4 separate regions of the Homo sapiens genome follow, and regions 1, 3 and 4 are each linked to region 2. Evidence: fine-mapped expression QTL. A gene starts in region 2. Each other region holds a variant in brackets. All regions are shown on one strand. Distances are between the middles of the regions. Region 1 has its middle 96 kb from the start of RAD18. Region 2 holds the start of OXTR (oxytocin receptor). Region 3 has its middle 22 kb from the start of OXTR. Region 4 has its middle 6.6 kb from the start of SSUH2.

Region 1 (7,529 bases), 96 kb before region 2:
AGCATCTTTTAATATGCTTGTTGGCCATTTGTATATCTTCTTTGGAGAAATATCTCCTCAAGTCCTTTGCCCATTTTTTAATCGGGTTTTCTTTTCATGTTGTTTTAGAACTCATCTTTGATCTCTTGTCTTTACCCAATACATCCTACCATCACCAGGATTCTTCTTGGTGCACCCTTCAGAATGTATCGTCTATCTCTCCACTCCTTAGGCCCTCCACCGCTACCATGTTTATTTCAGCCACCATCATCTTTCAGTGATGCTGCTGTTCTAGCTTGCTAATTGGTTTCTCTCATAATCCACATTTATCCCGCCATAGCTGATTCTTCCCCAACAGCCATCTTTTAGAAATGTAGATCAGGCCGAGCGCGGTGGCTCACGCCTGTAGTCCCAGCACTTTGGGAGGCCGAGGCGGGTGGCTCACAAGGTCAGAAGATCGAGACCATCCTGGCTAACACGGTGAAACCCCGTCTATACTAAAAAATACAAAAAATTAGCCAGGCGTGGTGGCGGGCCCCCTTAGTCCCAGCTACTCGGGAGGCTGAGGCGGGAGAATGGCGTGAACCCGGGAGGCGGAGCTTGCAGTGAGCCAAGATCGCGCCACTGCACTCCAGCCTGGGCGACAGAGCGAGACTCCGTCTCAAAAAAGAAAAGAAAAGAAAAGAAAAGAAATGTAGATCAAATATTATTCTCCTCCTTCAAGTCCTCCAATGACCACCCAATGTATTTCAACTCAACCAAATTTCTTACTATGATGTAAATGTCCTGGATGGCCCGGGCTTCATCCACCTCGCTGGCCTGTGCCCTTCCACTCTTTTGCTGTTTTCTGGGCTACAGCCACACAGCCCTTCTTACGGTTGCTAAACATGCTAGGCTTGCTCCTGTTTCAGGGCTTCACTCTCATGCTTCCTCGGTGTGGAATCGTCTTCTCTGGGATCCTCCCACGGCTGGCTGCTTCTCATCATTTGAGAGCTGCACAAATGTCACCTTCTCATTAAAGCCTTCCTGGACCTCTCTTTCTAAAAGACCTCCTCGCTCCTCCACATCAGTATCTGTTCCAGACTCTGTTTTCTTTTCTTCATAATATGCACTGTCCAGAGTTATTTATTTGCCTGCTTGTTTGTTGCTTTTCTTTCCCTACTGGAATGTAAGCCCTGTGGCAGGAGGGACTCTGCCATGTTTGCTACTGTCTGCCAGGCCTAGAATAGTGTCTGGTACACAGTAGGCATTCAAAAACTATTTGTGAAAAGAAAAAACCAAAAGACTAATGGTTGACTGAATGTCTTCTCTCCCTGGAATGTGATGTCTGTGAGATCAGGGACCTTGCTTGGGTGGTGTTCACCTCTGCATTCCAGTGCTCTGAACAACATCTGAGCGTATTAGGTGAGCAGCAAATCAGTGTGGAATGAATCATCTCTGAGCAAAGAGATCTGATCAAGTGAGTCAGGGACCCATTGAAGCAATCTCTTCCTTTCTTCAGTTTCTGCTCTTCTCAGCTGTCCCTGAAATGCTTGGCTCAACCGGATGAAACTAACACCAACTGTTTTATTTATGTGAACTACTCACTTTTTTCTCCAATTCCTATGACTCAATGTATGCATGTGTCTTCACTGAAGTGTACAATAATCTTTATTTTAGGCTTATTGGACACAACACTAAATGCTTTGTCTGGATGAAATTTGTTACTTTTCTAGTGTGGACATGCTCTCCCAACTAACAAATTGTTACAGGGACCATCAATAAGGACCTAAACTATGGGAATAATTTTCTGTTTTCATTTAATACTTATCTTTTGTCTTATTTCTTAGGGCCTAAACTTAATTTTGCTTTGGACCTTTGCTTTGAACCTCTGTGTCAGATGCACAACATCTTTAAATCTTCATTTGAAGATGACTAAGAGACTCAGTAATTAAAAGCTATCACTCCATCTTCCTGTGTACCTTCAAGGGTTTTATTAATAGCTTTCCTTTCTGTTGAACAGATTATCCTGCATCTCTGTGTCTTATTGAAATGCTCAGCACTCACATCCCTTTTCTCGGGAGTTTTTACAACAAGAAGAGCAGAGGTTTTTGTTACGGATACAAAGCTCTGCTTTTGTGAGCATGTTGATTCATTCTCATCAGGGAACAGATGAGGGGTTGTGTGAAGGATTGGGGCAAATTGTTATCACGAAAAAAAAAAGAAGCCTGAAATATTGTTTTACCTTTCTTGACCTAAAGTTCAAGATGTCATAAAATCAACCTTAAAGCTTACCTAGTCCAATGTTATTATTATATAGATGAGGACACTTAGTTCAGGGAGGAAAAGGGGTTCTCCCAAGGCCACACAATTGAAACACAAAAGTCAGAGTCAAACTGAATTCCATCTGGATTTGTGAAGGGCTGATTACCAAAGTACAGTTAAAACTGTTAATGGCTCACCGTGGGATCTTGAGTGAGTCCTCTCACCTTTCCATTTATGTTTTTAAATCTGTAAAATGGGCCTATCTGGAGAAAAGTCCAGATGCGTATTATAGTTATCACCAGATTATTTTTATTAGGTGTTCAATTGCATTTTGGCTGTTTTACAGCAACTGCAATAATATCATCATAATACCTTTACTTTGTTTATTTACATTATAAAATATTTTATTTTTAAGCAGTATATTATCATGGTTTATTATTCATAAGGCACAAAAGAATATACAGCAAAAAGTCTTCCTGCCGCCACAACTTTCCAGCCATTGAGTTCTTGGAGGCAACCAGTTTCTACCAATTCTTAGTGAAGCTTTCTAGAGATGTCTTATGCACATGCAAGAAAATATGCAGTCCTCTTTTTTTTTTTTTTTTTACAGAAATGGTAGCATACTAGATACATTGTTCTGTACTTTGCTTTTCTCTTTTAACATTATATCTTTTTATATATTATTGTTTCCTTTTTGTTTTTAAGGCTGAATAGGATTGTTCTGTATGGTTGCACATTGTTTGAACCAGTTTCCTACTGAGATATTTTTAGATTTCCAATCTTTTTCTATTATAAATATAGCTAAAATATACATATGTATATATATGTATGCACATTGTGTGTGTGTGTGTGTGTGTGTGTGTGTGTGTCTTTCTGTGTGTGTGAATCTGTAAGACAAATTCTTAAAAGTGAACTTAGTGGGCCAAAGATTTTGATAGCGTGGCCACTTTAATGCCTTGGATTTAGATACTGCTTTCAACTTTCCCTTTTTGAATGATTATTCCATAGGCTCTGTCCTTTTGAATCAGAGGCTTAGGATCTGAGATAACAAAAACAGGTCTGAATATGTATCTGCAGAATAAAAACAAGGGACAGAGAGTTCCAAGATCCACAACTTGGAAGGCTCTTCAGAAGAGAATAGGTTTTAAGGTGCTTGGAAGCCTTTGGGCAGCTCATGCTGTCACTGAAGGCAGTCGTTGCTTCTGGAACGCCCACTTCCTGAGCCTCTAGAGGACTGGCAACTGCAGAGGATGCCCTGCAGACCCAAGCTGGACTGTAAAACCCTTGATCTGGGTTGTCTATAAATGCCAAGGGAGGGTATAATAAAATTAGTACAAAAGCAGTAAATATTTGTTGCATGAACGAGTCTATTCTTAGGTACCTTCCTCTTAGAATCTTGGAACATCAGGGCTAGAAGAGTCCGTGGAGACCCTCTAGTCTACCATTTGAGAGGGTGGGAGTGGTGCAGCTCTTACATCTAGTATTGGAACTATTGAACTTTGCCCCTACCACTCTATTTATGTGGAATTGTGTATTTGGTTGTGAGTGCCACATTTTAGGGGGGAATGTAGTTGAAAAGGATCCTGTCCAGCATGTGGGGAATAAATGAAAGACCCATATGTGTTAGGCTTGGGAGGGGAGAGGGAACTTTAGAAAGGATATATACGTGGCACTTGTCTTCATAGCCTCACAGTGAAGAAAATATTCTAAGCACTTCAAGAACTATAACTAGAGCCAGTGGATGGAAGCTATAGGGGTACGGATTCAGCTTAGTATGGAAAATCTTTCTAGTAATCAAAACCACGTGAACTCCTGGTGACGTGGCCACATCCCAGTGGTAGCAGTGTTTAGGCAGAGGCCTCATGGCCACCGTGGAGAGATGAAGTTCAGGGGAAGGCCACGCTGGGGGAGATCAGACCACCT[A/C]TCATCAGATCACCACCAATTCATATTCTGTGCTTGGATTAACATCCAAATGGAGCTTTGCTTTAGTGTACACCTCCTTTATTATACTTTATCAAATATATTTCTTCGTGTTCTTATTACACATGCTCCTTGACTTATGATGGGGCTATGACCCAATAAACCCATGGTAAGTTGAAACTGCGTCTAATACACCTAACCCCTCAAATGTTTTAGCTTAGCCTAGCCTGCGTTGAATGTGCTCAGAACCCTGAGCAGTGCCATTTTGGCAGAAGGTAATCAGGTACAGGGACATTATTGTCTTCGTTTTCTGTAACTGCTCTAACAAATTACCGCAAGCTTAGCGGCTTAAAGCAACACCTATTTATTACGTAGAGCTCCATGAGTTATGAGTCCAACATGAGTCTCACTGTGCTAAAATCGAGGTGTGGGCAGGGCTGCATTCCCTCTGGAGGCTCTAGGGGAGAATCTCATTTCCTTGCTTTTTCTAGCTGCTAGGGGCTGCTCATATCCCTAAGCTGTAGCTCTTCCTTCATCTGCACAGCCAGCAACAACTGGCTGAGTCCTCATATCACCTCTCTCTGACCTCCTCTTCTGCCTCTCTCTTCCACTTTAAGGATCTTGTGATGAAAATGGGGCCACCCAGATAATCTAGGATAACCTTCCTATTCCATCTGCAGCCTTAATTCTTCTTTGCCGTGCAACCTAATGTAATCATAGGTTCTGGGAATTAGGGTGTGGCCCCCCTTTGGGGGTCATCATTCTGCCCACCTTAGTTATGCATTTGGTCTGTTATTTCCCTGCCCAGACACAGGGATATGGGAGCATCATCTGCACTTGGATTGCACCTCTTAGTGGCTCGCCCTTGGCTGTGATCATTTAGGAAACTGGACCTGCCTTTTTGACAGAATTTCTAGGGTCATGTTGGGTTTTTCTTAACCTTGGTCCTCTGTTGCTTCTAGGTTTGCCTTATGAATGTATGTGCTCCGTTTTAGCACCCACTTCTTTGAATATTTGGGTTAGCACAGAACTTCACTGGACCCTGCCCTCACCAGTCCTGAGGGCATGTGCTACCAGTAAGAGGGTGGCACAAGTGGGCTGTGCTGTGTGAGCTCCCATTAATCAACACAGAAAAAATGAAACAGAACTACACACACACACACACACACACACACATGCACACACATGCACACACGCACACACACACATGCGCACACACACACACACACGTGCACGCACACACATACACATGTACACACACATATACACACACAGGCATTTCTGTATGATCATTACACATACAGACCATAAAATCACAGCTACCAAAAAAATTGTTTATGTGTTTTGCTGGACTCTCCTTTCAACACCCCCTCCTGCCCCAGGTGTGGGTTTTGGGGTACTGTGGTGCAACCCCAGACATGGCCATTCTTCTAAATATTTCAGGCTGGGTGCGGTGGCTCATGTCTGTAATCTCAGCACTTTGGGAGGCTGAGGTGGGCAGATCACTTGAGGCCAGGAATTCAAGACCAGCCTGGCTAACATGGTGAAACCCCGTCTGTACTAAAAATGCAAAAATTAGCCAGTCGTGGTGGTGTGAGCCTGTAATCTCAGCTACTGGGGAGGCTGAGGCAGGAGAACTGCTTGAACCCGGGAGGCAGAGGTTGCAGTGAGCCAAGATTGCTCCACTGCACTCCAGCCTGGGTGACAGCCAGACTGTGTCTCGAAAAATAAAAATAAATTAAAAAAATAAACATTTCTACTCTGACAAAATAAAGTCTAAAATGTGGACATTGAAAATTAAGGCCAAAACAAAAGAAAAGAGACAAAGGAAAATCAGTAACTAGGCACTTAAACTGTGACTGAAGTTTTAGGTTTCCCTGTAGCTAAGGCAAACTGGGAGCTGGGTAGGAATACCTCGTTCTCACTGGCTAACTCTCCGCTGAGGTTTCGGTTTTAAGTTTCCAGTTTTCTGTAGACATTACGTATGTAGTATCTCATTCTAGTTAAAGCCATGGGATTTGATGGTCACAAATGAGTGGTTCTGTCCCTGGGCTCTGTCTTTCAAGCCTGTCCCCTGTCACAGAACAGCTAATATTGGAAAGTGCCCCCTGCGGGAGGAATAGGTGTGCCCACATTCTTACCTCCACCCTCCGGTCACACGCTGCAGGTCCTGACTCTGGCCTCGCTGGTGGTAGCCCCTCCTGACCCTCCTGTCAGCTGCTCACCCTCCCAAGGCAAGGGTTTCATCCCTGAGGTCCCTTTTATGCCCCTCTTTTCGGAAAGGATGAACTTGAGTTGGAGTGACATGGCAGTCATTTGGATTCAGTTTCCAGTTTCACTTCTCCAATCTCCTAATTGCTGCTTGGTTGTGGGCCGGGGCTTTTAGAATTGATTGGGCAACATGGCGTGGAATTGCCTCCGTGTATGTGCCATCCACTCTGTGGTTCAGGGAGCTCCTGTGAGTTCCTTAAGGGAACTAATTACCAGCTAGCACTTCTTATCGTTAGCGTTTTCTCCCATCTGCCAGCCAAACTCACTTCTTTTACACCTTAGATAATGTAGTGTGTTTTAAAATCCAGCCCAGATGTCCCACTTTCTAACCATTTCAAACTGATGAGGAAGCCAAGTGTCACAGCCAGGAATGGGAAAGTCAGGACTTTTTGGGCAGAGCCGCCTCCCCCTGCCCTCCTTCGTGAATACCCCCAGCCATCACCCCCAGCCCCTCTGCCACCCTCTATATCAGTCCCAGTTCTTCCAGAGGTAGATGCCAAGATGGAATTAGACTGGCCAGAGATTTATTGAGAGAACATCTGTGTCGGACAAAAAGGAGAGGGAGCAGGAAAAGGTGGGGAGAGACTTCCAACCACTTTTGCACCCCTGTGGAGAGAGAGGGGGAAGGGAGAGTCATACATAGGAGGACCCTCGGGCGGTGGTGCAGCACCGAGACAGCCTTGGCCAGACGGATGGGGAGTCTGGCAGTTACAGGGGCCCTTCCTTTCCTAGGTGCAAATTGCCTGTCCAGCAGCTTTATCTTCAGATGGGCTGGCACTGTCACTTCACACCTTATTGCTTCTCTGTTATCACCAACCAAACCCCCACAGAAGGGGAGGCCAAAACCATGTGGGAACAGATGCTACATCCTAACAGCAAGCCTGTTCTATATGTGTTTTGCTGGACTCTCCTTTCAACACCCTCTCCTGCCCCAGGGGTGGGTTTGGGGGTACTATGGTGCAACCCCAGATATGGCCATTCTTCTAAATATTTCAGGCCAGGCATGGTGCAGTCATTCCCCAGTCCTCTCCCATGGGCCTGTAGCTCTGCTCAGCCAGGGAACTGACAGTAGAATAGAAAGAGCCCTGGGTGTGGACAGAGTGAGAGCAGGGTTT
Region 2 (7,308 bases):
ATAGTTCTCTGCTGTTTGTGAAGCACTCTTCATGTGCATTAAGTTTGGTTTATACACACAGCCTCATGTGATCAGCACCTGGGGAAACCAAGTCTCAGAGAAGTTCAGTACCTTAGCCACGCTGACAAAACGTGGTAAAATCCAGATGCTAGCAAGCACTTACTGCTGCAGATTCAGAGCTCTCTCCAATAGGAAAGCACATTTTTCTCTCTTTCTCCACCCTGCATGGAACACAGGAATGAAAACAAAGGCTGGGAAGTCCAAAATCACACAGGCTAGAAGGAATCCGTGCAAGTTCTACCTATAAGCAGTGGCCTCCTGACACAGCATCCTGGCACGGCCTCAGGAACTTCCCAGGTCAGCCCATGTGCCCTGATGTGCCTGCATCCGCACAGAGCTATAAATGTAAGAAGATCAAGTGTGCCAGCAGCAGGCTGATTGCTACAATGTGTTCTCAGCCTTTATGCCTGAGAGCATGTCACTGACCCCCCTCCTGGAGCTAGGAGCCCAAGCAGAGGCTGAGAAGTTATTTGGGGGCAGGCTGGGGAGGCGGTGATGTTAGGGAGGGGGTAGGTTGGATGTGTTTATAGCTCATTTCCACTCTGACAATAGAGCAAAGGCCGCTTGGGCTTGGATCCATGTTGAAATAAATGTGCCAGGGCTGGAAAATTCCCAAGATGCTAAAACTCAGACCCAGTTCCCAGAGGCAGAAGTGGGTACAGGACAGGTCATTCTCTGGGCAGGATACCTTCCCCAGAGGGCCTGGTTCTGCCCATGGAGATGTTTATTTCTTCCCTCCTTTCCCCCTTCCTTTTATCCTTCTGTATTTAACAAATACCTGAAAGGTGCCTATTCTATAGTGACCTAGGCCTTTCGAAGTACAGGTATAGACAATATTGGCCCCACCTTTAAGATGCTTGGATACAAGAAAAAAACAACCCCATTAAAAAGTGGGCAAAGGACGTGAACAGACACTTCTCAAAAGAAGACATTTATGTGGCCAACAAACGTATGAAAGAAAGGTCAACATCACTGATCATTAGAGAAATGCAAATAAAAACCACAATAAGATACCATCTCATGCCAGTCAGAATGGTGATTATTAAGAAGTCAAGAAACAACTGATGCTGTAAAGGATCTGGAGAAATAGGAATGTTTTTACACTATTGGTGGTAATGCAAATTAGTTCAACCATTGTGGAAGATGGAGTGGCAATTCCTCAAAGACCTAGAACCAGAAAGACCATTTTACCCAGCAATCTCATTACTGGGTATATACCCAAAGGAATATAAATCATTCTATTGTAAAGATACCTGCACATGTATGTTCACTGCAGCACTATTCACTATAGCAAAGACATGAAATCAACCCAAATGCCCATCAATGATAGACTGGATAAAGAAAAAAATGTGAGATATATATATATATATCTATATCTATATAATCTATATATAGATATATATAGATTATATAGATATAGATATATATAGATTATATATATATAGATTATATAGATATATATAGATTATATAGATATAGATATATATAGATTATATATATATAGATATATATAGATTATATATATATAGATATATATAGATTATATATATATAGATATATATAGATATATATATATATAGATATATATAGATATATATGCCATGGAATACTATGCAGCCATAAAAAGGAACAAGATCATGTCCTTTGCAGGATGGATGGAGCTGGAAGCCATTAACCTCAGCAAACTAATACAGGAACAGAAAACCAAACACCACATGTTCTGACTTATAAGTGGGAGCTGAATGATGAGAACACAGACACAGGGAGGGGAACAATACACACTGGGGCCTGTCACGGGGGCAGAGGGAGGGAGAGCATCAGGAAAAATAGCTAATATGTGCTAAGCTTAATACCTAGGTGATGGGTTGATAGGTGCAGCAAACCACCATGGCACACATTTACCTATGTAACAAACCTGCACATACTGCACATGAACTCCAGAACTTAAAATAAAAAAAAAAAAAAGATGCCCGGATACTCAGACAGATGAAGACATTTGTAAATCAGGGATTGCTGAATCTCTGTCTGTGATGGTTCATTTTGTGTGTCAGCTTGGCTGGGCCATGGTGCCCAGATATTTGGTCAAATATTATTCGGGATGTTTCTGTGAGGGTATTTTTGGATGAGATTAACATCTGGAACAAAGTAGATCACCCACCATAACGTTGGTGGGCTTATCCAATCAGTTGAAGGTCTATATGGAACAAAAGACTGACCTCCCTGAGCAAGAAGGAATTCCGCAGCAGAGGACCTTTGGACTTGACCTGCAAAATCAGCTCTTCCCTGGGTCTCCAGCCTGTCAGCTCACTCTGAAGATTTTGGACTTGCCAGCCTCCATAACACATGAACCAATTCCTTAAATGAATCTCTTTCTCTACATATATACATCCCAATGGTTCTGTTTCTTTGGAAGACCGAAAGACACCCTGTAATGTCACATCTTTTGTCCATGCCTACAGCATCTCTTGCCTGGATCTCCAAGGCCTTCATAATGCCAGTATCTCCTTTCCCATCTTCCCTGTGGCTACCAGCATTCTCTCACCAAGCACAGATTTGAGTACGTTGTTTTGCTTGCAGTCCTTCCAGGCACCCCACCTTCCCCACCAATGCCTTCTAACCTCAGTCATCTTTACACTAGCACCTTCATGATTTTTGTTATATCAGACTTTCTCTTTGCTGACGTCAAAAGTAAGCAGAACTGAGAACTGAATTTCCTCCCTGTTATTCAGTATCACTCAATATTAAATTCACATTTAACACTATCAGAAAGTATTCCATCCCATATTTTGGGGAATGTTGGGTTACAGAATAAAACCCATTCTCCTTTACATGGCCTTGAAGTTCCTTTAGCATCAATAAGTACAGTTATCTCTTGGTATCCATGGGGGATTGGTTCCGGGAGCCTTCAAGGTACACAAATCCCTGATATAAAATGAAGCAGTATTTGCATATAACACGTGCATATCCTCTCACATACTTTAAGTCATCTCAAGATTACTTGTAACACCTAATGCAATGTCACTCGTCACTGCATTTGTGTGCATTCAGTGTTGTAGGTGGCACATGACAAATTCAATTTTTGCTTTTTGGAACTTTGAGGATTTTTTTTCCTGAATATTTTCAATCCATGATTGTTTGAATCCACTGAACTCACAGATACAGGGATATAGAGGGCCAACTGTATGTATTAAGTGCTGGCAATGTGCTAGGCACCAAGCAATTCATCTTTAGTCCTTCCTCCAAAACGCCAAAGTGATTCCCCTGCACCACTCTCTGAGAAGTATGCCTTTTTTCTTTGCTTCCTGGAGAACTCATTCTGGAGCTCTGAAATCCAGCTACCTCTTTGTAAAACGATCTCCCAAGTATTACCTCAGCCCCCAGCAGTCCTCACTTCTGTAACATCATTTATTGTTGTCACACTGCAAATATTAGGTTGATGCAAAAGTAATTGCAGTTTTTGCCATTATTTTTAATAGCAAAAACCACAATTACTTTTGCACCAATCTAATATGTGTTTTTCTCCCTGGCCGAAGCTCAAAGGTGAAGGAGCATGTCTTATTCATTGTTAGGAGTTTTCAAGGGGACCTCTCTATTTCCTGCCTGGTTTCTGCACACAATGAGAAATAAAACAAAAGACAGGAAATGGGGATCACACTATTACTGTTGTTGTTATTGTTGTTGTTTAGATTAAAACTAAGTTAGAGAATTTACCTTTTGCATGAGACTAAATAGCCCTGTTAGGTGAATCCAGAATTAGGCTGTCTCACGGGCTACGCGAGGACCACACAGGTAGGCAGGCTTCCCTACAAAGGGTAGAAGAGTCTGTCCTTGGTGAAGTGGCTCAGTAAACTTGCTCCCTAGAAAGCAGCTGTCTTCCAGGAGAAAGAAGGGCAGGCTTGGTTCTACAGGCCAGTGTTTTCCTTCTCACATTCACCGGTCAGGGGCTCATAGGGAAAAATCTGCCTTCATCCAGCCGTGGAGTGAGGCAGGGGTGTTTTACCTGCTAGGATTGAACCCTCAGATTGCACAGATTATACAGTTTCAGAAAACCAGAGGGACAGGACCTCAGACATTAGCTATCTTGACCAGTGCTCTCATTTTACATATGAGGAGACTGAGGCCCAAAGAGAAGGGGCTTGCCCAAGGTCACTTCATTCTCACCTGAGTCGTCTGTAACTTTAATCTGTAATTTTCGAGGCCGATAGGTACTATTGACTAATATTGATTAATACTGCCTGCCACCCCTTGGCAATGCTGTCAAGATTCCCAGCCCCATTCTGGAATGATTACTCAGCTAGAACCCTGGGATCCAGGTGCTGTAAGGTTGGCCCCTGGGATATCTCGGCATGGGGCTGTAATTGTGGATTAAGGAAACCCAGTCCTTGGCTAACTCAAGTCTCTCCACATAATAAAAAGACGGAGAAGTGAAATGTCAGGAGGAAATACACATTTAATGCATTTTAAAGAGCCCTGTTTATTTTTGAATCCTGGCCTTTTTTTCTGACTTAATTCTTGGCCACTGTAAATTACTTCAAAAAATGATTTTAGAATAGAGAAGGGGCAGGGAGGCTGAGAAGCTGTCTTTAACATTTTATCTTCCTTTGGCATCATTTAGAATTTTAATTCCGAAGCGCGACAAGGAGGCAGAAACGGCTCTTGGGCGCAGACAAGCAGAATCACTTTAAATGAAGACAGTGTTGTGCTTCAGAATTTCCTCTAAAACTACCGAAAAAATAACGCCTCTCCCAGCACTGCTTAGAATAGAGGCCATTTCTAATTCCTCATTAACGGGAATAGGAACAAAAGTATTCCAAAGCAAAGACTTATTTGAGTTCACTGCTAAAGCCGCTACATCAAGCTGGAGGTGTGGGGGGAGAGAAAAGCCTGAAAATTAACATCATTTTTGGGAAATAATCAGTTTAAATGCTTTTGTAACTTCATCACTATCTACCCGGGGAAGAACATTATTATTCAAGCCTCCTATGTGTCTCGGAGTCAAGAGCTTCTAAACCAAGAAAGGAAGAAACGGGCGGGTTATTGACGAGTTCCCTCCCTCTCGCAGTTTTAAACCACTGCAAAATAAACCCATTTGTTAAGGCTCTGGGACCAACGCTGGGCGAACCAGCTCCGCTCCGGAGGGGTCTGCGCGGCTGGCCTCGCCCGCCCCCTAGCGGACCCGTGCGATAGTGCAGCCTCAGCCCCAGCGCACAGCGCCGCATCCAGACGCTGTCCGCGCGCGCAGCCTGGGAGGCGCTCCTCGCTCGCCTCCTGTACCCATCCAGCGACCAGCCAGGCTGCGGCGAGGGGATTCCAACCGAGGCTCCAGTGAGAGACCTCAGCTTAGCATCACATTAGGTGCAGCCGGCAGGCCATCCCAACTCGGGCCGGGAGCGCACGCGTCACTGGGGCCGTCAGTCGCCGTGCAACTTCCCCGGGGGGAGTCAACTTTAGGTTCGCCTGCGGACTCGGTGCAGGTAGCTGGGTGCTAAGCAGGGGTGGACGGGATGGCTAGGGCCGGTGGAGCCATCGGGACCCGAGTGGAGGTGGTGGGGTGCCTCGCACTCCTTGTTCCTGGAGGAGCTCGGGGTGTTCCGAGAGATTGTAAAGTGACTTCTCGGGATTGAGACTCAGAGTCCTTGATTATCTGGGTCCAAAGCGCAAGTCAGGGGTTCCAGAACTTTCGAGGCTGCCGGGCTGGGGAGGAGCCCCGCGGGAGGTGTCTATGCCAGGGTCTGGGAACAGCGCTTGGGCATCTTGGGCTTTGAGGCAGGGGTTCCCCCAGCAGGGACTGCAGAACCGGGTTTCCACCGAAGCAGGTGCTGTGGAAGTTCAGGGAGTGACGGCCGACCGTCTTAGAAAAGGGGGTTAGACGGGGAAGGACCAGAGCTGGGGTTTCCCAGGCAAGTGGCTATTTGGGGATTTCCGGAGGAAGTACTTGAATTAATGTTTACTAGGAGAGGGGCTGGTTTGGGGGTCCCGCGGCAGGTGGATATGCTGAGGGTCGGAGCCTGGGGCGAGTAGGTAGTTTGGAGATTCCCTCGGGGAGGTGATTTGGTTTTAGATTCCCACTCCCGGAGGAACGTTGCTGATTTTGACCCTCCCTTCTCCCCCAGTGGAAGCCGCTGAACATCCCGAGGAACTGGCACGCTGGGGGCTCTGGGCTTGTGGCCGGTAGAGGATTCCCGCTCATTTGCAGTGGCTCAGAGGAGGTACCTCCAACGGGGATTTCTGGGGTGGCGGCTGAGCAACCCGAGGCCGGCGGTTGTGCCCTGTTGTTTCAGATGAGTTGGGTTCCTGGGAATGGGACAAGCACGCCCTACCCGCGTCGGAAGAGAAACGCGGCGGTCTCCTCACGGCCCTCCCGGTTTGTTTCAGGGTGGACCCAGCAGATCCGTCCGTGGAGTCTCCAGGAGTGGAGCCCCGGGCGCCCCTACACCCTCCGACACGCCGGATCCGGCCCAGCCGCGCCAAGCCGTAAAGGGCTCGAAGGCCGGGGCGCACCGCTGCCGCCAGGGTCATGGAGGGCGCGCTCGCAGCCAACTGGAGCGCCGAGGCAGCCAACGCCAGCGCCGCGCCGCCGGGGGCCGAGGGCAACCGCACCGCCGGACCCCCGCGGCGCAACGAGGCCCTGGCGCGCGTGGAGGTGGCGGTGCTGTGTCTCATCCTGCTCCTGGCGCTGAGCGGGAACGCGTGTGTGCTGCTGGCGCTGCGCACCACACGCCAGAAGCACTCGCGCCTCTTCTTCTTCATGAAGCACCTAAGCATCGCCGACCTGGTGGTGGCAGTGTTTCAGGTGCTGCCGCAGTTGCTGTGGGACATCACCTTCCGCTTCTACGGGCCCGACCTGCTGTGCCGCCTGGTCAAGTACTTGCAGGTGGTGGGCATGTTCGCCTCCACCTACCTGCTGCTGCTCATGTCCCTGGACCGCTGCCTGGCCATCTGCCAGCCGCTGCGCTCGCTGCGCCGCCGCACCGACCGCCTGGCAGTGCTCGCCACGTGGCTCGGCTGCCTGGTGGCCAGCGCGCCGCAGGTGCACATCTTCTCTCTGCGCGAGGTGGCTGACGGCGTCTTCGACTGCTGGGCCGTCTTCATCCAGCCCTGGGGACCCAAGGCCTACATCACATGGATCACGCTAGCTGTCTACATCGTGCCGGTCATCGTGCTCGCTGCCTGCTACGGCCTTATCAGCTTCAAGATCTGGCAGAACTTGCGGCTCAAGACCGCTGCAGCGGCGGCGGCCGAGGCGCC
Region 3 (7,529 bases), 21 kb before region 2:
TCTCCTCCCATGCTCTCACACTATCTCATTCTGCTGGTTTTCTTCCCACCTGGCTGCGTGCGTCTATGCACTCTCCTCGGCTCCCTCTCTGCTACCTGCCCCCTAAATGATGAGGTGCCAGGGCCCTGGCCTGAACCTCCCTCTCTACCAACCTTCTCTTCATGGATGTAAGTGTTTTCTTTCTGCTCATAACATCTTGAGTGCACACCTTCCCTGGAGTTTCAGACCATTCACCTGGTGAACTCTATGAAATCTCCGCTCAGATGTTTAATAGGCCTCTGAAAATACACATGTCAAAAATATGACCCTCTGTTTTTCTGCCTTCCTGCCGCCAGTCAAACCTGTGCTTCCTCATCTCAGTGAGTGACATTGGGCAATCACTATTCATAGGGTTGCTCAGGCCAGAGTCTTGGAAATAATCTCTGATTCCTCCCATGTGTTCCTCCACCACATCCCATTGATTGGCAAGTTGTATTGGTTCAACTTCAAAGACATCTGCAGTCAGTCCATTCCTGCCATGCCCCCTTCACCCATCACCATCCAAGTCACCACCATCTCTCGCCGGTGTCCTGCTCCCAGCCTTGCCCTTTTTACCATCGTTTTCCCACCCAGCAGCCAGAGACATCTGTTAAAAATATAAGCCGGCTCCTGGAAGCTGGCTGCTGTGGAAGGCAGCTTGGGTGAGAGCACTGAATGATGAGAGGCCACAAGCAGGGGCACCGAAGTGCATTCCCCCAATGAAAAGCTGACACTGACACCCCAGACCTGTGAGTGAGTCCATTGTGGATCCTGCACTCCTGTCGACCCTCCCCAGCTGACAACTGGTGGAGCTGAGATGAACCGTCCCACTGGGATCTGCTTGGATCCCTGACCCAGGGAGTCATGAACAACCAAATGGCTGCTGCTTCAGGCCACAGAGAAAAGTGTACAATAGATCCTGACCCTTTGCTCGTTATCCCTCATGAGTGATTTCCTGATGCACTTGTGTTAAAATCCTAATTCCATGCCATGCCTTGTAGGCCTTTGATAGTTCCTGCCTGCTGCTTTCCTCTTTTGCTCCATGCTGTGGTCATACAGCTGCTTTCTGTTCCTCGGTCTTGCCGCCTGCGTGCCTATCTCAGGGCCTTTGAACCTCCCCTTCTCTCAGCCTTTCTTGCAGCTCTTGGCATGTCTGGATTCTTTTTATTTTTCAAGACCCCACTCAGAGGCCATTTCTTCGAGAGGCTTTCTCTGATCACCCTAAACACTCAGAAACATCACCCTGTCTATTTTCTTCATAACACTTCCTACAGTCTGGAGCAATCTTATCTGTAGAATGCATGTGTTATCTGTCTCTCCCCTGCTCTCTTTGAGAGCAGGATTTGGTCTGTCTTGCACCTGCATCTTTGGGGGTCAACAGCTTGACATAATGTAGACCTCTAACAAACTGCAATAAACGTGTTATTGGGAAACAACTTAATAGGCAAATGATTATGTGTATTAGGGCAGCGCTTAAACTTCAGTAAGAATGTAGATTACCTGACAACCTCATTAAAATACAGATTCTGATTCTGTAATTCTGGGAGCTCTAGGGTGGGCCTGAGACTCTGCATTGCTCACAAGCACCCAAGTGATGCCAGTGCAGCTGGCCCATGGAGTACACTTTGAGCAAGCAAGGCAAGGCTGTTCGACCTTTGTATACCCACGGTGCTATTTAACAGTTGCACAAACGTATTTGTTTCAGCAGGAAGGGAAAATAACGACAGAATCCTTATCCTCTGTTCAAGTATCATTTCCAGGTATTTGCAATTGGTACCTTTATGACATCCAGGGATGTCTTTGGGGGCCACCTGTTTTTTTTTTAATTTTTAATTTTTATTTATTTATTTATTTGAGATGGAGTCTCGCTCTGTCGCCCAGGCTGGAGTGCAGTGGCGTGATCTCGGCTCACTGCAAGCTCCACCTCCCAGGTTCACGCCATTCTCCTGCCTCAGCCTCCGGAGTAGTTGGGACTATGGGCGCCTGCCACCACGCCCGGCTAATTTTTTTGTAGTAGAGACGGGATTTTACCGTGTTAGCCAGGATGGTCTCGATCTCCTGACTTCATGATTTGCCCGCCTCAGTCTCCCATAGTGCTGGGATTACAGGCGTCAGCCACCGCGCTCGGCCGGGGCCACCTGTTTTTTAAGTGTGTTGCATCTGTCTTTAAAAGCTAAGGCTGCTTATCCGAATTCAATCTCTGACTGCTTTCTGTGCCTTCAGGGATGGCTGCAGCTGCCCACTGAGTGGCCTGGAGCTTGCCGTGACACAGGGAAGGGACCATGCCTGCCTGAGGATCTGACTGATGTCCAGGGTTGATGTTAGCCTGGCGTGGGGGATCCCAGTCACTGATGGCCTGCAGTCATGTTCATGATTAGCTAATGTCTGTAAGACTTTGAGTCACCACTCACGGTGATTCAGAGTCCATTGTGTCCATCGGGTTTCCTCAAGCAGCGTTGCCATCTGGCCTCTGTCTGGGGATAATTTCTCTGTCCCTTGGTGCCAGAATTAGCCTGTCTCTTCCCTATAGGCAAGCAGAGTGATGCCCAGTGCATCCCAGGCATCGTGCCTTCCTTCGCCTCCTGGGTTGGACACCGTGACTTCGGCCGTCTCTCTGCCTCTAGCCTTAGCGTTCATGCATGCTCACTAGAACTGGAGGGGATGGCTGGCTCCCCAAATGAGGCCTCAGAAACAGGAGCTCAGGGTCATAGAGACGCTGAGAAGGCTGTCTTTGCTAGGGGCATGTTCTAGGGCTTGTTATCCCCAAATGCAACTCTGACACTCCCTCAACCAGCTCAGGTCTTGAGCTGGAAAATTTCTCATCAATTGTCTCCCCACATCCTTCCAACAGTGATGGCAAGATGGCCTTCCTGACACAGGAAGATGTAGCCAAGAGAGGTGGGTGGCTTGCTGAGGGCCCTGCAGCTGCTGAGTGGCTGAGCCAAGACTGCAGGGCATTGTCTGACCCACACTGCAGTCCAAAGCTGCTGTGGCTGCTTTATGGCAGATACCATCACAGAGGGTCCCTTAGGGAAGAAGGAACTGAGGCTCTTCTGCCGATCCTGGGCTTACTCAGGGGTTGGGGGAGATGGAGAGGGAAAGGCCAGCAGGATCAGGGAGGAGGCTTCTTTCTGGGGGAAGCACAGGATGCATTCTGTTGTGAGAGTTGCTCCTGCCCAGGTCAGCATTTTTCTTGGAGTGCTCTGTGGCCAGCCTCCCTAGACATTCTCCCATGGCATGGCCTTATACAGAGGTTCTGATTCGCACACTAGGAAATCCCACCTTTTCCCCAGTCTCTCTCCAAATTCACCTCAATGCTCCTTTCTGTTGGGTAAGCAGTTTCTGCATCTGTAGGTCTTGCTCACTTGAAATTATATGTAGATGTTAAATTTATAGCATCTCTACACGAATGCCTTGATCAGACCATTTCTGAGAGAGGCTGCCTTGGTCACTGTGGAAGGTGGAAGGTGAAGAAGGAGGGATGTTGTTCCTGAGTTGTCATTCCCCTAAGGGCAAGGCTGATGAAGGCAGAAGAAAAGGGGCAATGTTCAGAGAAAATCAGGAGGTTGGCAGCTGGGCAAGGGCCCAACCCATGCCTCAAACAGAATGAGGAGCAAAGTAAAGTGAACATTTATTTATAGAGTTCTTACCACTTGCCCGGCACCATGCTGAGCACCTAGAATTTATTATTTCATCAATTTCTCAAAATGATACAGTGCAGAGGCTCAGAGAAGCTGGGAGACTTGGTCTCACAGCCAGTAAGTCTCAGAGCTGTGGTTCCATCTACTCAAAGCCCCACTGCCTTCATGGGAAGGAAGCCAAGGGGCAGAGTGAGGGAGGCCCAGTGATGAGAATAGGGCCTGAGGAGCCAGTTCTGGAGCTTTGGGTATAGATCTCAACCTTTGTTAGTGCCTGGCCCTCATGCTTTGCTGAATGGAAGACAGACTCTTTCTTTCTTCCTTCCTTCCTCCCTTCCATTCCTTCATTCATTCAACTAACATATTGCCTACATGTTTACCAGTCCAGACAGTGCTGAAATGTATAAAGCAAAATGCTGTAGTTCCCTCA[C/T]CTAACACCAGTCTAGCTGTTGGAGGTAACTCACCACTGTTAACAATGTGATATCTTCTCTATGATCATATAAGTAAATACCATTCGAAAACATTTTTTGTTTTTTTTTAAATTAAATTAAATTAAATTTTTAGAGATGGAGTCTTGCTCTGTCGCCCAGGCTGGAGTGCAATGGCACAATCTCGGCTCACTGCAACCTCTGCCTCCCAGGTTCAAGCGATTCTCCTGCCTCAGCCTCCCGAGAAGCCAGGACTAGAGGCGCACGCCACCACGCCTGGCTAACTTTTGTATTTTTAGTAGAGATGGAGTTTCACCATGTTGGCCAGGCTGGTCTTGAACTCCTGACTCAGGTGATCCACCTGCTTTGGCCTTCCATAGTGTTGGGATTACCGGTGTGAGCCACCATGCCCAGCTGATTTTTTGTTTTTGAAAAAAAAAAAAAAAAAGCCATACCGTACTCTCTATGCCATTTTTCAATGTGCTTTTCCCCATCACTATGGAGCATTTCCCATTCAGCCATAAGAATCCCTAAGGGGTAAACTCCTAAGGGGCAAGGCACAGCTGGATTGTCTGAGAGTCCTGGGAAAATGTGGAGAAAGTATCAAGGAAGCAAGGTTGAGGGGCACCAGGACTAGTTTCTATCCACCCAGGAAGGTGCCAGGACATCCTTGCATTTGGCAGTATCCCTGCCAGGCAAGTGCTGGTGGAGAGTCACCCTGTGGTCTCACCTTGGGGTTCTTCTTCCCCAGTTGTCACACCCAATTCCCTTCCTCTTCACCATTAGTCCAAAGCGTCATTCTCTCTCTAGCTGTGGTAGCTCTTAGCTGGTTACTCTGCTTACACTCTTGACCTGTGTGTAGATTGCAAATCATCCTAATTTTTTTTTTCACTATTGCCTGTCTTCTCATCCTTTGCAAGCATTTTTCAGCTGTCACGAAAAGGATGGAATGTATATCCCTACCCCTCAATTTTGTGTTTGATCATGTGACTTGTGCAAGAATTTGTGGCTCACTTTGACCAATGTAACAAGGCATATCCTTAAAATATTTGTTTTTCCTTAACCTCTGAAGCTTCTGCTGTCACCAGAAGAAGGACATGTCTACACACTAGCCTGCTGGTCCAAGGAAAAGGATCCAGCCAGGCTCAGCTTAGAGCAGTCCACCCTCAGCTAATTCACACATGCATAAGCTAAATAAATGCTTATTATTGCAGTGGTTCTCCAAGAATGGACTACAGACACCTTTCAAGGGGTCTGTGAGGTCAAAACTATTTTTAAACAATATAAATACATATAGGTCTTTTTCATAATGTTGACAAATACACTGATATTTAAAAAGCAATTGTGAACTGGATAAAAAAGATCCAACTACATGTTGTTTTCAAGAGACACACTTTAGATTCAAAGATAAAAGGTTGAAGGGAAAATGATGTAAAAAATATATCATGCAAATAGCAACCATGAGAAAGCCAGAGTGGCTATATTAATATCAGACAAATATATATATTTTTCAGAGATAAGGTTTACCTCTGTCATCCAGGCTGGAGTACAGTGGCATGATCATAGCTTACTGCAGCCTCTAACTCCTGGGCTCAAGCATTCCTCCACTTCAGTCTCCCGTAGCTGGGACTATAGGTATTTGACACCATGCCTGGTTAATTTTTTCATTTTTAAAGAAATGGGGCCTTGCTGTGTTGCCCTGGATGGTCTTGAATGCCTGGCCTCAAGAGATCTTTTTGCTTCAGCCTCCTGAGTTGCTAGGATTATAAGTGTAAGCCACTGCTCCTGGCTAACACAAATAGATTTTAAAACAAAAAATTATTAGAGATAGTGAGAGACATTTATAATGATGAAAGCGTAAATTCATCAGGAAAATATAACGATTATAAACATATATGCATCTAATAACAAAGCCCCAAAATAAATGAAACAAATTGAAGAGACAAATAGACAATTCAACAATTATAGTTGATGACTTTAATATCCCAGTTTGAACAACTAGGCAGAAGATCAATAAAGAGACAGAAGACTTGAACAACATTATAAACAAACTAGACCTAATAGGTATCTATAGAACACTCTACCCACCAGCAGAAGAATACACATTCTTCTCAAATGCACATGGAGCATTCTCCAAGATAGATCGTATGTTAGGTCATAAAACAAGTCTCAATAACTTTAAAAGGATGGAAATGACACAAAGTGTGTTCTGTGGACATAAGAGAGTAAAATTAGAAATCAATAGAGAAGAACATTTGGAAAATTCACAAATATGTGGAAACTTAAGAATATACTCCTAAATAGCCAATGGACCAAATAAAGAAATCCTAAAGATGAATCAAAAATACTTTGAAATGAACGAAAATGAAGACAAAAACATGTCATAATTTATGGGATGCAGACAAAGCAGTACTTAGAGGAAAATTTATAGTTGTAAATATGTATATTATAAAGAAAGACCTCAAATCAATAACATGTCCTTCCACCTTAAGATACTAGAAAAAGAAGAGTAAACTAAAACCAAGCAAGCTAAATAAAGGAAATAATAAAGATTAGAGTAGAAATTTATAAAATAGGGAATAAAATTCATAGAGAAAAATAAACAGAACCAAAAGTTAGGTTACTTGAAAAGATCAACAAAATTGACAAAACTTTAATTCGATTGACCAAGTTGAAAAGAAAGAGAAGTCTCAAATTATTAAAATCAGGAATAAAAGACTTCACAGACCTACTGACAGAAATTAAAAGGATCATAAGGGAATATGATGAACAACTGTATGACAATTAAGTTCAAAAAGTTAGATGAAATGAAAAAATTTCTAGAAGGACAAAAACTACCAAAACTGACTTAGAAGAAATAGAACATCTGAATAGACCTATAACAAATAAAGATATTAAATTAGTAAAAAAAATTTTAGTCAAAACTACTCACAAGGAGCTCAGTCCCAGAGGGCTTAACTGGTGAACATTTAAAGAATAATTAATATTGATTTTCCACAAACTTTTCCAAAAATAGAAGAGGAAAGAATACTTCCCAACAAATTCTATGAGGCCAACATTACTCTGATACTCAAACCAGACAAAGGTATCATATTAGAAGAAAATTACAGACCAATACCTCTCATAGGCAAAAATTCCTCCAGAAAATACTAACAAACTGAGTCCACAAACATAAAAAGCATTACATACCATGTTAAGTGGGATTTATTCCAGGAATGCAAGGTTTGTTTAACATCAGAAAATTAAACATTATAACATACCAACCCTATCAAGACATTTGACAAATTCAAAATCCTTTTATGATAAATATTCAACAAACTAGGAATATAGGGAACTTTCTTAATCTGATTAAGGGCATCTATAAAACACACACACACACGCGCGCACACACACACACACACCACACAAGCCACAGCTAACCTCATATTAATGGTGAATGATTGAA
Region 4 (7,529 bases), 120 kb after region 2:
CACTGAGACCCGGGGGAAGAGGCCACCCACTGTGATCTTGGGGAGGCCACACACTGAGACTGGGGGATGAGGCCACCCACTGTGATCTTGGGGAGGCCACACACTGAGACTGGGGGATGAGGCCACCCACTGTGATCTTGGGGAGGCCACACACTGAGACTGGGGGATGAGGCCACCCACTGTGATCTTGGGGAGGCCACACACTGAGACTGGGGGATGAGGCCACCCACTGTGATCTTGGGGAGGCCACACACTGAGACCCGGGGGAAGAGGCCACCCACTGTGATCTTGGAGAGGCCACACACTGAGATCTGGGGGAGGCCACACACTGAGATTTGGGGGAAGAGGCCACCTACTGTGATCCTGGGGAAGCCACACACTGAGATCTCCGGGAGAAGACCACATACTTTGATTTTGGGTAGGCCACACACTGAGACCTTGGGGAGAAGGCCACACACTGTGATCTTGGAGTGGCCGCACACTGAGACCTTGGGGAGGACACCCACTGAGACATTGAGATATTTATATTTTCCCTGGAGCTCCGGCATCTGTCTGTAAAGTGAGGTGCTACGGTTCTATTCCTACTAATTTACCCTATGGAAACACACACACATGTGTAGACATAAGTACAAGGCTATCTTTAAACCACAGCAGTGTAACTGCAGGGAAGTAGGAGACAATTTGGGTGTCTATTGAGAGGAGAATGGTTAAATACATCATGATACATTCCTACAATGGGAAACTACGAAGTGTTAGAAATAAAGGAAACTGAGATGACGTGGGTGATTCTACAAACATGATGTTGAGTGAAAGAAGCCAGATTCTTTTGTTGAAAATTCATCTGTTGAAGCCCTACCCCCTAATGTGATAGTATTTGGAGATGGAGTCTTTAGGACGTAATTAGGTTTAGATGAGGTCGTGAGGGTGGGGTCCCCAGGATGGAATTAGTGCCTTTCTAAGAGACAGAAGAAAGCTTGCTCTCTCTCTTTCTCCTCTCCACATGAGGGCATAGCAAGAAGGCAGCCATCTACAAGCTAGGATGAGAGCCCTCACCAGAACCCAACCATGCTGGCACCCTGATCTTGGAATTCCAGCCATCCAAATGGTGAGAAAATACATTTCTGTCATTTAAGCCACCAGTCTGTTGTCATGGCAGCCTGAGCTGACTAATACAAGTGCCTGCTGTTTGAGTCCAAATGTATCAAGTTCAACAGGCAAAACTGAGCCATGCTGTTACAGGCAGGGGAACGGTTCCCACTGGGTGGGGTGGAAGGGTCGGGAGGTAGAGAGTGAGTACCGGAAAGTGGCCTAAAGTGGCTTCAGAATCTGGTCATGTTCTGTTCCCGATCTGAGTTTTGGTCACACGGGTACATTTACTTTGTCAAAATGCATCCAGTTGTGTTTTTAAGATTTGTGCTTTTTAAAGGATTTGTGTTATAATTCAGTAAAATGTATACAAAGAAAAATAATCTCATTCAAAAATTATCAGTAAAAACAAAAGTCTTGTGAACAATATTTTAGTTATTTCTATGTTATTCGTATTCAGCCCAGTGCCTGAATTTAAACCGGATTGTGTGCTAAATGTAAAATCTGCTACAGCAACAACAATAAAATGAACAAGGTAAAACTGTGTATGCTGTTGACACAGAAAGATATCCATATTGTATTTTTTGTTTCTTCTTAACAAAAAGGATGAGCAATATTTACAGCATGATTTCATTTACGCTTTTTAAAAATTCTAAGTGTATGCACACTTATAAGCAAATTTACATGTAAATTGACATGTGGACATTGGAGGTGGGGTGACCATTAGTTTTTAGTTTTTAATCTTTTGAATCTTTGATTTTTTAAGGATTAGGATATTTCTTTTATAAATATAAAAAGTAATGGTGAAGGTAAATAAAAGAGGACAATGAAAGTGAGTTTGGAGCAGATGACATCTGCGGCTCCTGCCTCTTGCTCTGAGGTCTGTGATTAACATTGACCTTCTTCATGTCCAGCCAGATGGATGACCAGGTTTGAGTTGGATGACATACATCTCCATGTGATTCTCAATTTAGATCCAAAAAGGTGTCCATTCTTGTGGCTATCATTTCGGTTTTTGGTTGTGGATTCTCTTTCTCCAAGTGGATGTGGAGCTGGCTCTGGAAGCCAGGTACAATGGCAGAGCTTCAGGGCATTTAGGTAGCCGATCCCCAGGACAAAGAGGAGCCCAGTCTCCTCCCCACTCCCAGGGAGATGGCCTGAGGGAAAGGGGGAGTCAGTCACATGCTTATATTCCAAAATAATAGACCTGTGGAGAGTGGCCTGAAGACACAGAGGAGAGAACAGTTGTTTCTGGTCAGGGAAATCATGAAAGGCTTCCTAGAGGAGGGGGCATCTGAGATGGTCCTTGGAGCATGAGTAGAAGTTTGCCAGGGAGAAAATGGTAGAAGGAGAATGTTTCAAATGGGGGAAACTGTATACATAAAACTCGATATAGGTATATCAGGGGAAAACATGTGAGGGCTAAGGCTGGAAAGGCTGTTTGGAGGCTGGCTGAAGATTTGGACTTTATCCTAGGGTAATAAGGAGCCATAAAAGATTTGAAGCAAGACACTTAATCAGATCTAAGTAGGCAGGAAAAGCTTTCCACCCTTCCCCTTTCTTTCCTCTCTCTTATCCTCCCTTCTTGGGAGGGGGACTCTGAGCAGCAGGAATAGAAGACAGTCTGGGTAGACATGATAAGCATTGAGGTTATGCCATGGAAGGCAGCTGCTATTAGTGACACAAAGGTTTGCTTGACTTGTGGATGTCTGATTGGGAAAAATCTGGAGATGGTAAAGCCATTTCTGTTACTGGTCTATAAGGCTACTCCTGATCACAGAGCACCTGAGACCCTGGGACTGGGGGAGATTGTGGTACAGGTGCAGAGGGAGGAAGATCAGAGAGATCCCGAGGAGGGCTCTGTGTGCTTGGATCAAGGACTCAACAGGGAAGGTGGGAGAGTTCTGTCGCACTTTGGACACTGTGTGTCATCCTGATCATGTGATTGTTTGATTTTCCTTCTGGGGATGGATGGTTGACCTCCACCGTTTCCTGGTCATCACTGTGCATGCGGGACACGCTGTAGAACAGCTCACACTGGCTGGCACTGCTAAGCAGGTGCGGAGGGGAGTCAGAGACCCCCGGATGGAGGGGTGAGTGAAAGCCTGCCTGAGGCAGTCGCCACGGAGATGGAGGGAGGAGAGATTGGCAGGAGGTGTGTGTAGTGGGAAGAGAAGAGACAGAAGTTGAGGATAATTAGGGGTTTCCTGTATGTGTGGCTGGGCATGATGGTGAAGAGGCAGAGGAGGGGAGGAGCTGGCATGGGGAGAAAGAGAATTAGGGTGGAGCCATGGGAACACATCCATCCTTGCTGAGGGCTGTCTCTCCAGTTGACATTAGATGGGAGGCCTAACATCAGGGGATGGAGGAAAAAATGATTTCTGCCACTTTTGGCTTCATGGGAGACTCTGCAGTGGGGCTATGTCTGATGTTACTTATCGCTCTGGTACCCATCAAGGTCTCTGCAAGGAATCAAAGCTCTTTAATAACATGTGAAAAAAATACACGATTCCTCATTCTGCTCCTGCTCCCCATTTTTGTGTGGCCCCAGGAGTCACTTCACCTCTGGGGACCTCAGGGCAACATTCAAAGTGTATTTGTCATGGAGGAAGCCCTGGGCCATGGTCTGCTACTCACTGCCATGTGAGCCTGAAC[G/A]AGTCCTTTCCTTTCTCTTGGCCTCAGTTTCCCCATGTGCACAGTGAAGAAGTAGAACAAAAAGAATTCTGAGGTCCCAACAAGTGCTCACCGTCAGCAATGATGGCTTCCCTCACTTGCCTCCCCGCTTGCTGAGATAGCCGAGAGATGCAATGGGCTGGATCCCGAAGCATTTATGACAGAAACCCCTCTGCAAACACAAGGACGGGAAGTTAGTGTTGTCCTGTGGCCTGGGAAGGCTGGTGGTGCCTTGCAAAGCAAATTGAATTTGTGTTTGAAAATTTCAGTGACCAAACAGACTGGCCTTTTAAAATTCCAAATTGGCTTTGTAGATAAATGGATCAGATTAGTAGGAAGGAAGGGAGAAACGGAGGGACCGTGCAAAATGCGTGCAATTGCTGGCAGGCAGCCTTCTGCCTTATGAGATTAGCATCTCTGCCTTTTGCTGGAAATGAGCCACTCTGTTCTCCTTGCCTGCCAGGAGCCACGATTTAAAACCTCTTCCATTTTCTAGCCCAGTGAGGACAGCAGCCGGAACCACAGAAACTGGTTTTAGTTGGTTTAATCTGAAGCCCCCAGGCTGGGCATCTGCACTGACCCACAAAAGAGCTCCCTGGGAAATGTCTTCCAGAGTCAAGGCCACGGATGGAGCAGGAGCTGTCACTGGTCAGTTTTCCAACCACGGGGATGGAGCGTCCTGTAGTCCCAGCTTCCAGGGAAGCATCCTTCATTAAGGCTTGAGCCACAGGGTCAAACTGAACTCCTTCCTGCTGTTCCTATAATGTGGCACTCAGACTGGATCCCTGTTTTTGAAGAAGTAAATGTCTAGAAACAGGGACAAACTGGTATTTAAAAATTACTAGTGGCCTTCTTTTTTCTTCTATCAGTTTCCCCACAGTTGGAACAAAGCTTATCTTTGGAGAAAACTGTTTAGAAGTCCAGGACAATGGGAAGATAAAGTCCCTGCATAAGAATATATTTATTTATTCATTCATTCATCACATGTCTATAGAGCATCTATTATTTTCCAGGCTCTGTTCACAGTGCTAAGTATACAGCAGGGAACTAAACAGACACAAATATGCTTTTTGGGATTTTTATCTTGGTAGCCTACATCCAGATTATGACAGGTGTTGAACAAAACACATAGTAAGTTAGTTAATGTGTTGGATAGAAGTAAGTGCCATGAAGAAAAACAAAAGCAGGAAAGAGGGTCTGAGACTGGAGATTTGGTGGTGGCGGCAGGGTGTTCAATTTTAAATAGGGGCCAGGGACAGCCTCCCTGGGAGAGTGACATTTGAGCAAAGGCCTGAAGGTGGTGAGGGAACAGTTTGTGTAGAGATCTGTAGGGGAATTCCAGGTCTCCAGTACAGCAAGTGCAAAGGCCCTGAGGTGGGAATGTGCTTGGTGTGACCCAGGAACGATGAGGAGGCTGGTGGGGCTGGAGGAAAGGGTTGAAGGGAAGCAGGCAGAGGCCATATTGGTAGGGAGGGTGCAGGGGGTCGCTCGCAGAGCACGGCAAGGACTGGGCTTTTAGTCCAAGTGATTTTGCAGCCAGGAAGGGTGTTGAGCAGAGGAGGGGCTGTCTCCTGACTTACAGGTGTAGAGGGATCAGTCTGAGTTCTGAATTGAGCATGGGCTTTGTCAGGGCGAGGGCAACAGATAGGAGGCCCATGAGGAAGTGACTGCAGCAATCCAGGTGAGGGGGGCAGGGGGCTCAGGCACGAGTGGGAGCAAGGAAGCAGACTGGGAGAGGACCCAGGCAGATATGACTTGCTGACATTGAATGCGGGTATGAGGAAAAGGGGGAGTGAAAGCAGGTGGAGACCAGAAGTTCAGTGCTGAACACACAGAGAGAGCTCGAGGTGTCTGTTAGACAACTGAGGGGAGATGTCCCAGCCAGATAGAGGAGTCAGGAGTTCAGAGGAGAGGTCAAAGCAGAGGCAGAAATTGGGAATCATGAGTGCGTGGACGACCATAACACTGAAGGAGGTCACCAAGGGAGTGAGCACGGATGGACGGGCACACAATGGGTCCAGACACCCTGATATTTAGAGATCAGGGGAGAGGAGCCACCATCCCACCTTGCCCGCTCCTGGGACCTGCTCTGGGAATGAGGAGAAATGCAATTCCTGCCCTCTTCATGAACTGCAGGAGCCAGGAGATGTGGTAAGATGTGGCGAAAGTTCCTGTTGCAGGCAGCGTTCTTGGGAAGAAGACTTTGAGGAGGAGGACCTTTGTGTGTGGGAAGTTAGCTGGGGGTGCTCTTGGGATCAAGTCCTGTGAGGAAGCAAAGGCAGCAGGATTTCACAGAGGGAGGAGTTGAGTTGCGCTGCAGTCAGGGCAAAGGTCTTGCCCATTGTTGGAGGGTAGGGGCTCAGAAGTAGGGCAGCCCTTCAGAGCTGCCCTGAATGAAGGCCCAGGGTGAGTCAGGGAAGGGCTTGGCCAGGTGCTGGAGATGAGGTTCTCATCCTGAGGGGACCTGGGAGGGCAGCCCAGCACTCACTAAAGCACCCAGGGGAAGGTGACCAGGCCACCATTAGACGGTGGGGGCAGGCCAGAGTCTCTTAAGAAAGTTGATGAGTTGGGTTCCTGGAGCATCAGGATTGGTAGAGTCCTGGAGCTGCGATGTATCCAGGGTCAAGGTTAAGTTTTGTGTTGTGTTTAATCATTTCCCCACCTGTGTTTTGGGAGCCTTCCAAGAGGGGCCTCAGCTACATCAAGGGAATGAGGGAAGGGGCACTGTGGCCTGGAGGAGGTGATAGAGGGAAGCCCAGGGCAGCAGCAGACCAGAGTCACAGAAGGGAGTAGTGCTTTGGTGAGCACTCATTGGAAGCTTCTAGAAAGACTTCAGGATGGGGGGGCACCAGCTAAAGTGTGGCTTTGCTGTCGCTGAGGAGACAAAGGTTCAGGATTGGCTAGGAAAAGGAAAGGTGGAAGGTGACCTTCCTGAAGGCCTCTGGCCTGCGGGCATCGTAGTTTCTCAGCTTTCCTCCATTGCTTTCTGTTCAGCTGATTGGGTAGCCAGACTTACACGGGCCAAGCCACTAAGTAGCCAGGTCAGTGAAAACCATGCCACGCTCCTTCCCCTAGCTTCTTACAACGACACATAACAACACACAGAATTGTTTGTCATCTACATCAGGGCCTTGGTGCCAACTTGCTCTCATTCCTGTTCTGCCGCACCAGAGCTGTGTGACCTTGGGTAAGTCACTCAACCTCTCTAAGCCCTTGTTGTCTCGTCTATAAGGAGAACAATATCTATCTTACGGAGTTGTTGTGAAGGTTTAACTGAGAAAGCATCTGTGAACGCATCTCCCTTCCTATGTGGTATTTGGGGGGCATCAAGAAGATCTCAGTCCCTGTTTTCTGTCTGTGCAGTTAGAGGTCCACGACTTGGGCCTGGAGGGATATGCCAGTTTCCCTGGCTCCCAGAGAGAGGAGGGTGCTTGGGCATGGTGTTTCGAGAACCTCCTACTTGGACAAGTTTCTTATTTGTGTCAAGCCCATTCTCCTCCACTCCATACTTGATTCCTGCCATGGGCACCACTGGTCTCCATCCACCCAGCCTGCAGATAAGCCAACAACAATGTTATCTGTGGCTGCCAGGCCCTTTGGGGCAGAACTCCTTTGTTGGCAGTCTTGGCTCCTGTGGGGGTTCTGGGTGGCTCTGGGTTCGGTTGGGTTGTGAGGGCCCGAGGCAGGGCCTGGTTCCTGGTGGATGTGCAGGGAGCATTCACTGGATGAATGAGAGTGAGGGCTCTGTAGATGGTGGGGTGAGACCTTCG

What was found. PIP is the estimated chance that this variant, and not a neighbour inherited with it, causes the effect.
Region 1: its variant is the best candidate, but not a certain one, in a credible set for the expression of OXTR in spinal cord (GTEx, PIP 0.57).
Region 3: its variant is the best candidate, but not a certain one, in a credible set for the expression of OXTR in esophagus mucosa (GTEx, PIP 0.60).
Region 4: its variant is the best candidate, but not a certain one, in a credible set for the expression of OXTR in whole blood (INTERVAL, PIP 0.88).

What each region holds. Positions count from the first base shown.
Region 1 is chr3:8,863,734-8,871,262 of GRCh38, reverse strand. No RefSeq gene overlaps it. Among named protein-coding and RNA genes, the nearest start is that of RAD18, 96 kb to the left of the region's middle. RefSeq lists an enhancer at 714-1,913. The variant A/C (reference allele first, on the strand shown) is at 4,147.
Region 2 is chr3:8,767,457-8,774,764 of GRCh38, reverse strand. OXTR (oxytocin receptor) reads left to right here and starts at 5,152. Exons shown (of 4, transcript NM_000916.4): 1 at 5,152-5,534; 2 at 6,174-6,269; 3 at 6,436-7,308. The coding sequence starts at 6,578. RefSeq lists enhancers at 4,988-5,037, 5,685-6,356, 7,029-7,308 and a silencer at 6,648-6,707.
Region 3 is chr3:8,788,259-8,795,787 of GRCh38, reverse strand. No RefSeq gene overlaps it. Among named protein-coding and RNA genes, the nearest start is that of OXTR, 22 kb to the right of the region's middle. The variant C/T (reference allele first, on the strand shown) is at 4,087.
Region 4 is chr3:8,647,640-8,655,168 of GRCh38, reverse strand. It overlaps a transcript of SSUH2 not described here. Among named protein-coding and RNA genes, the nearest start is that of SSUH2, 6.6 kb to the right of the region's middle. The variant G/A (reference allele first, on the strand shown) is at 3,742.